Linked DNA regions of Homo sapiens. The protein of the gene in region 1 purifies or fractionates together with the protein of each later gene. This does not show direct contact. Each region holds a gene or a part of one and is shown on either strand. Other genes may lie near its edges. The genes, in order: SLC36A1 and MYH14.

Region 1 (3,815 bases):
TCACCACCCTCCCAACACATTGAAAGGACATTTTTTTCTCTCACCATTTTAAAAATGAGCACATCTATAAAAATAAAAAGGAAGAAGAGTTGTGGATGGGAGATGTTGAGACGAGGGCCAGGGTGAGCACCTTTCAGTTTCCTGGTCCTCCTCTGAGCTGCTTTCAGCTACCATTTCTCAGTACTCAGGTTGGCAGCAAGAAAGGAGTCCCAGGGTCAGGGTATAAGAGTTACTGGTGGCCTCCAGAGAGTATAGGATCAGCCTGTGGTCACAGCAGAGAGAAAGAGAACGGCATGTGTGGCTCTGGGATTTGGTGGGAGTTTCAGCAGAATTGGATGATCCAGAGGGGATTTCTGTTTTCTTTTTTTTTGTTGTTTGTTTGTTTTTTTTTTTGAGATGGAGTTTCGCTCTTGTCGCCCAGGCTGGAGTGCAATGGCACGATCTCGGCTCACCACAACCTCCGCCTCCCGGTTTCAAGCGATTCTCCTGCCTCAGCCTCCCGAGTAGCTGGGATTACAGGCATGCACCACCACGCCCGGCTAATTTTGTATTTTTAGTAGAGACGGGGTTTCTCCATGTTACTCAGGCTGGTCTTGAACTCCGGACCTCAGGTGATCCGCCCGCCTTGGCCTCCCAAAGTGCTGGGGTTGCAGGCGTGAGCCACCACACCCAGCCCAGAGAGGATTTCTTGAGTGAAATGTGTTCTCTATTGAAGGCAGAGGAAAAAGAGTATACGATGAGAAATACCCAGATTTCCATCCCCCCAAGAGCTTGTACATATATATATATACGTGTGTATATGTGTATACGTGTATATATATACATACACGTGTATATACGTATATATATATATATATATATGGGATATTTATATATATATATATACACACACGATTGAACTATTGCACAAGGTCCAAGACATTATCTCAGAAAGGAGTAGATAATCCTGACCTAAGGAATAGGGAATGCGGAATTCCAGGAAGCACTTCTCTTTCATTTTCCCCCACTCCTCCCAAGCAGTGCCTCACTTCTGCCTTGTCTAGCTGTACTCCGGAAAATTAAGAAATTTATGAGTGTAGCACCACGTATACCAATGGGAAGGATGGGAGTCAGAAGTCAAGTGAACTCAGCCCGCCTCTGTGTACTTTGCACTTTTCCATTTCCCTTGGTACCAGGCACTTTCATACTTAATCCATAGTGGAGCTGTCACAGTGAGCAACTCTGACAATGACAGCTTCTACCCCAGAGGCCACCCCAAATATGGAGCTAAAGGCTCCAGCTGCAGGAGGTCTTAATGCTGGCCCTGTCCCCCCAGCTGCCATGTCCACGCAGAGACTTCGGAATGAAGACTACCACGACTACAGCTCCACGGACGTGAGCCCTGAGGAGAGCCCGTCGGAAGGCCTCAACAACCTCTCCTCCCCGGGCTCCTACCAGCGCTTTGGTCAAAGCAATAGCACAACGTGAGTAGCTGTTACCTTCTCCTCTCCTGGGTGGGATTCGTGTTCCTAAGCCTCCCTTGGACTTATTTTTCCCCCCAATTTCATCAGTCCTCCACTTTACAGATGAAGGTCAGCAGTGAAGAGATTGGGCGAGTGACTGCGCTGAGATTTGCCTTCCTGGGCTGCCACTCTCTAGGCAGTTTCTTACTCTTTTTTCCTTTCAGCTGTGTTGGCCCCCCAAGGCTGGTGCCAAGTGAGAGCTTGGACTTAAAAAAAGCTTCTACAGAGGACATTCTTTTAATTTAAAAGTGTGTCATCTGTGCTAGAACCCCAAATAATTTCCAAGCATAATCGGAAGCTTCCTTTGCAAAGTCTCCCCCCGAATTCTGCCCCATCACCAAATCAGTATTCATTTGACTGAAGAAGTGGGAAGAGAGAAGAATTAACTTCTGCACTTAAAAAATTCAGGGTTGGTAGGAAAGGAAAGATAGACTTTGCATTCTCCAAAGAGGGCTTAATCTCTTGTCTCCAGAAACTGGGACCCCAGACTCATTTGGGCTGAGTTTGGCCCGCTTCAGGTCTCACTTTCCCCAAATGTAAAGAAAAATTGAGGACTCCACCACAAAGCTATGCTGGCTGTGTGGGGCTCACCACTTGAATTAGAAAATTCAGAGGAAGTTTTGCTACTCCATTGAGTTAGTTTCCCAGCTACTCCTGATTTCAGCAGACCTCTGACTTTTCTCTGTGTCCCAGCATCTCAGCTTTTGCAGTCCTGTTTATTCCTCAAGCTTAGCTATTACCTTTTCTGTGTTTTCTTGTGGACTGAGTGTGACTTACTGAGAGATCCTTCATGTCCTAGACTTATGCCATTCCTGATGACTGCCCAAGCGGACCATGGAAGCTTCTGGGCTCATCACTGGAGAAGCTCCCTCTGCCTGCACTGTCTGCTGGTACAGGGCATTTTCTCTTGCGAACTGGGGTGGAACTAGAAGAATGTCTGTCCACATTCCTGGCCCGTCACCACCACTAGCTGATTTCTATGCCTCAGGCTGGAAGTACTCAACCAGTCCTCTAAGATTCTGTTTCTGTAGCTTATTTCTCAGGGGTATGCTTTTGTAGATTCCCCATTAGCCTGCAGTGGGAGTTAGCTGGTGGTAGATTGCTTAGAGCACAGCTGGCAGCAGTGTGGATCACCCTGCCCCTCTTTCCTCCAACCTTATCAGCATTGGCAGCCCCCATGCAGAAGCATCTCCACACACAGCCAATGGCATGTGATGGCTTCCCTTCAGAGGTCATGCTTGTTATCGTAAGATACTTCTAAGCTTCCTTCTCTGTAGTTTCCTTTGCAGTTTTTGCTCCTTTTTGATCTCAGATATCAACTTGTCTAAGCAATATTTAGCAGATGAGGTCTGGATTTTTATGTTTATAGAGACATCTCTGAAGCTCAAAACCTACCAACTAGCAACTTTAGGATAGTAGCTCATAGGTTTTGGACAAAATTATGTCCTTGTTTCTTGGAAATCGAACAAATCAGAAGATACCTTCCTCAGGCTTGTATTGTGACATTTTCCAGGGTATACTTTGTTCCGAGTTTCCCTTCCTGCCTTGATGTTGTGATACAGTGTAGGTGACCAGGGAAGCCTATCTGTAGTTGATGGCAGGTATTACAGTCCCATCACAGGTGGTACAAGATAAAGTAATTTGCTGGGGCTTAGAGGACTGGTTGAGTACTTCCAGCCTGGGGCATAGGATCCACGCAAGGATTTATATAGAAAACATGCCAGGTATGATTAAGGTAGAGGTTGATTTGGAGGACCTTCTTAACCTAAATTAATATTTTAATATGTCGGAAGTGTTAGAGACAAGTTTTTGAGCTGGGTTCCTTTTATATTTCTGGTTTGCCCCACCCTTTTATCTAGTTTGCCAAGGAACAAAATACATGGAAGTACTTCTACACCTACTGCACATATGCATGCACACACCTGGCTCTTCTAGAAGTCAAGGGCTCAGCAAAAACCCCTAGTTAGGGGGTGCAAATAGGAACCCCAAACACTTCCATGAGTTTCATGGGTTACTTCCTTTTATTTTTTTGAGACAGGGTCTTGCTCTGTTGTCCAGGCTGGAGTGCACTGGCACAATCATGGCTCACTGCAACCTCCATCTCCTGGGCTCAAGTGATCCTCCCACCTTAGTTTCCTAAGTAGCTGAGACTACAGGCATGCTCCTGGCTACTTTTTGTATTTTTTTTTTTTTTTTTGTAGAGATAGGGTTTTGCTATGTTGCCCACTTAGTCTTAAACACCTGGGCTCAAGTGATCCGCCTGCCTCGGCCTCCCAAAGTGCTTGGATTATAGGCATGAGCACCATGCCTGAC
Region 2 (3,525 bases), on another chromosome or scaffold:
ATTTGCATTTCCTCACTAGTCCCATTTCACAGATGAAGAAACTGAAACTTTAAGAGGATATATTTTGCATCAGAGTCACAGAGATAGAGCCTGGATCAGATCCCAGGTCTGTCTGGACAGAGTCCCTCTGCCCTTAAAAGCTCAGCTGTGCTTTATTCGCCATTCATTCCACAAACAATTATTGAGCACCTGCTATGTGCCAGACACTGTGGTAGGCATTAGGGATATGGATGTGAACGAAACAGAGGAAGTCCCTGCCCTCATGGAGCTCACATTTTCTGCATAGGATGAGACGTAATAAACCTGTAAACAAGCAGATAATTACAGATTGTGACAAGGGCTATGAAGAAAAAAAGTGAAGAGAGAGGAAGACACAGAGGATTGGGGAATCCTCTTCAGGTTGGGAGATCAGGAAGAACTCTTTGAGAAGGTGACATTTAAATTGATACCTGAAGGGTGAAAAAGAGCCAGTCAGAGGGAACAGCAAGTATAAAGGCCTTGAAGAATAGAAATACGTTTGGTGAGTTCAGAACAAAAAGCAGATTAGTATGGTCTAGATAAACATCTGTTGTTATTTTAGTCCTGGTCTAGCTTCTTGGTAGAGTTTAACTTCTTCCCTCACTTTGGCTGCCTCAGCTCCCTACAAGGGCCCTTCCTAGATGCCAGAATTTATAAATTGCGAAGTCATTGATTCCAACCCTCTGCTGATGTGCCAAGTGCCAGGATGGTATCTGCACTCACTTCCAGTCCAGCACCTGCACGTTGCTTCTTGTGATGGGAGCTCATTGACTCCAGAAAATGTGGGATAGGAAGGCTGAACGATAAGAAATGAGGTCAGATCATGTATGTTCCCTCCCTGAAGAGAGAGGTGGTAGGGTCTGGGGAGGATCTCAGTGAAGTTGGTCTGGACAGTGGGTTTATGGGAAGAGAGAACTGGACAAGAAAAAGACCCTGTGGGGCCTGGAATGCCAGGCTGAGGGGCTGGAACCTTGTCCCGGGGGTACTGGGGAGCCATGAAAGGATTGTGAGCAGGAGGGTCTGGGTCAGCTCTGGGTATAGGAAGACCTTTCTGAGGCCATGTAGGAGACAACCTGGAGGGGAGAGACTGGAGGTCAGGGTAGAGGCTGGCATGAGGGATTTAGGAGAAAAGAACAAGGCCTAAACAGAGAGCAGAGGATGGGGCAGAGAGAGTCAGGGGGCAGTAGGGATGGGGCAGTAGTGGGCTGTTGGAGAGGGAGGGAGTGATGACAGTACCTGGAGATATAACCCAGTCCCCCTGCTTCCATCAAGCTGGAGAAGGGAAACCTTCGAGTCAAGCAGCTGAAGCGGCAGCTGGAGGAGGCCGAGGAGGAGGCATCCCGGGCTCAGGCCGGCCGCCGGAGGCTGCAGCGTGAGCTGGAAGATGTCACAGAGTCGGCCGAGTCCATGAACCGTGAAGTGACCACACTGAGGAACCGGCTTCGGTATGGTCATCCCACGTACAGGCCTGACGGGTGGGGAGCACCCTAACTCCATAAACCCCAGGGACGCGAGGCCGTGCCAGGGGCAACAACAGGGGGAAATGGGATCCACGGGGGTGTGGGGCTGTGGGAGCAGCGGCTGTGTTGCGGGAGAGCCAAATCCAGGTAACTTCTTTCTTCCCACACCCATTTCTCCCTGTCATCTCTGTGCCCTCCTTTCCCACCGTGCACCACCACCTTTCTCTCCTTTCCTCCTCTCTGTGTGTCCTTCATCTCTCTCTGCCCCCCATTGCTTCTGCCCGTCTCCCTCCATTTCTCTTGATCTCATCCCTCTCTTCCCCCTTATTTTGTTCTCTCTCTTCCTATCTCTCTCTCTCTCCCCCTCATCTCTCTCTCTCCTCCCCCTTTCTCCTCCCCTCCCCTCCCCTCATTTCATCTCTGTATCCTGGTCTCTCCTCCCCACAGACGCGGCCCCCTCACCTTCACCACCCGCACGGTGCGCCAGGTCTTCCGACTAGAGGAGGGCGTGGCATCCGACGAGGAGGCAGAGGAAGCACAGCCTGGGTCTGGGCCATCCCCGGAGCCTGAGGGGTCCCCACCAGCCCACCCCCAGTGACCCTACCCTGTCCCCAGATGCACTAACAGATGGGGCCCAGCCCCCTTCCTCCCTGGACCCCACGGGCCCCTGTCCCAGGAACCCCGCCCTCTGACTTCTTGCCCTTTGGAAATGGTGCAGCACTCTGGCATTTATCACCCCCACCTGGGTCCCCTGCAACCTCCCATCAAAGGATGACCCCTAAACACAGAGGAGCGGGGCAGGCAGGGAGGCAATGACTGGAGCTACCTTGCTTGTTGGGGGACTGGGTACAGTTGGCAAGCTGTGTTTCCATCAGCTCCCTGTCCTCCTTTCTTCCCTCGTTATTGATCTATAGACATTAGGAAGGGAGTGAGACGGCTCCTCCACCATCCTCAGCCAGTGCAACCCATTCCCTCTGCTTCTCTCTCTCTCTCTCTCTCTCCCTCCCTCTCCTTCCCTACCCTCTCACCATCTTTCTTGGCCTCTCTGAGGGTCTCTCTGTGCATCTTTTTAGGAATCTCGCTCTCACTCTCTACGTAGCCACTCTCCTTCCCCCATTTCTGCGTCCACCCCTGAACTCCTGAGCGACAGAAGCCCCAGGCCTCCACCAGCCTTGAACCCTTGCAAAGGGGCAGGACAAGGGGACCCCTCTCACTCCTGCTGCTGCCCATGCTCTGCCCTCCCTTCTGGTTGCTCTGAGGGTTCGGAGCTTCCCTCTGGGACTAAAGGAGTGTCCTTTACCCTCCCAGCCTCCAGGCTCTGGCAGAAATAAACTCCAACCCGACTGGACCATCTCTGTGGCTGTGTGTGTTCCTGCAGGGGGTCTCTGATGGGGCAGGATGGGCACAGGCTGCTTCAGCCTGCTAGGGCAGCAGGTCAGGCAGCCTGCTGGTTAGAATGACACCTGCGTGGGTATACAGGGACATCCTGTGGATCAGGCGCTTCATAACTCCTTTCCTCCTGACTCCAGTGTATAATGGAAATATTCCCTGCATTATACAGATGAGGGAACAGTCTCAGAGCAGCAGCATCCCTCACTCCACGCCCCCAGTGAGTGCTAGAAGGGGTGTTGCACTCGGGCCAACTCTTAAGTTTTGCAAAATAAATGACAGGCCTGCTGCAGTGGCTCATACCTGTGATCCCAGTGCTTCGGGAGGCTGAGGTGGGAGGATCACTTGAGCCCAGGGGGTGGAGGCTGCAGTGAGCTATGATTGCATCACTGCACTGTAGCATGGGTGAAGAGTGAGATCCTGTCCCAAAAGCAAAACAAAACAAAAAGACAGCCGTGGTCGTTTGTGCTGCGTGCTGTGCTAAGCACACAGTTTATCTTAACCCTTACATAGCACTACAGGTAGAGATTTCATTGCACTCCAGTGCCTAGAACAGTGTCTGGCACACAGCAGGCATTCACTCAATATTTGCTGAATAACTAAGTGATGCCCCTCCCACCCTTTTAGAGTGGTGGAAACAGGCTCAGAGAGGCTGAGT

The links.
Region 2: the proteins of SLC36A1 (region 1) and MYH14 purify together in Homo sapiens (affinity purification with mass spectrometry; one large-scale study listed by BioGRID and IntAct). This does not show direct contact.

What each region holds. Positions count from the first base shown.
Region 1 is NC_000005.10:151,457,473-151,461,287, forward strand, and holds part of SLC36A1 (proton-coupled amino acid transporter 1), read left to right. Parts: exon of another isoform or gene 1-1,227; coding exon of another isoform or gene 1,228-1,320; coding exon 1,321-1,463; intron 1,464-3,815. UniProt on the Homo sapiens protein: Electrogenic proton/amino acid symporter with selectivity for small apolar L-amino acids, their D-enantiomers and selected amino acid derivatives such as 4-aminobutanoate/GABA.
Region 2 is NC_000019.10:50,307,715-50,311,239, forward strand, and holds the end of MYH14 (myosin-14), read left to right. Parts: intron 1-1,290; coding exon 1,291-1,463; intron 1,464-1,925; coding exon 1,926-2,076; 3' UTR 2,077-2,826; downstream 2,827-3,525. UniProt on the Homo sapiens protein: Cellular myosin that appears to play a role in cytokinesis, cell shape, and specialized functions such as secretion and capping.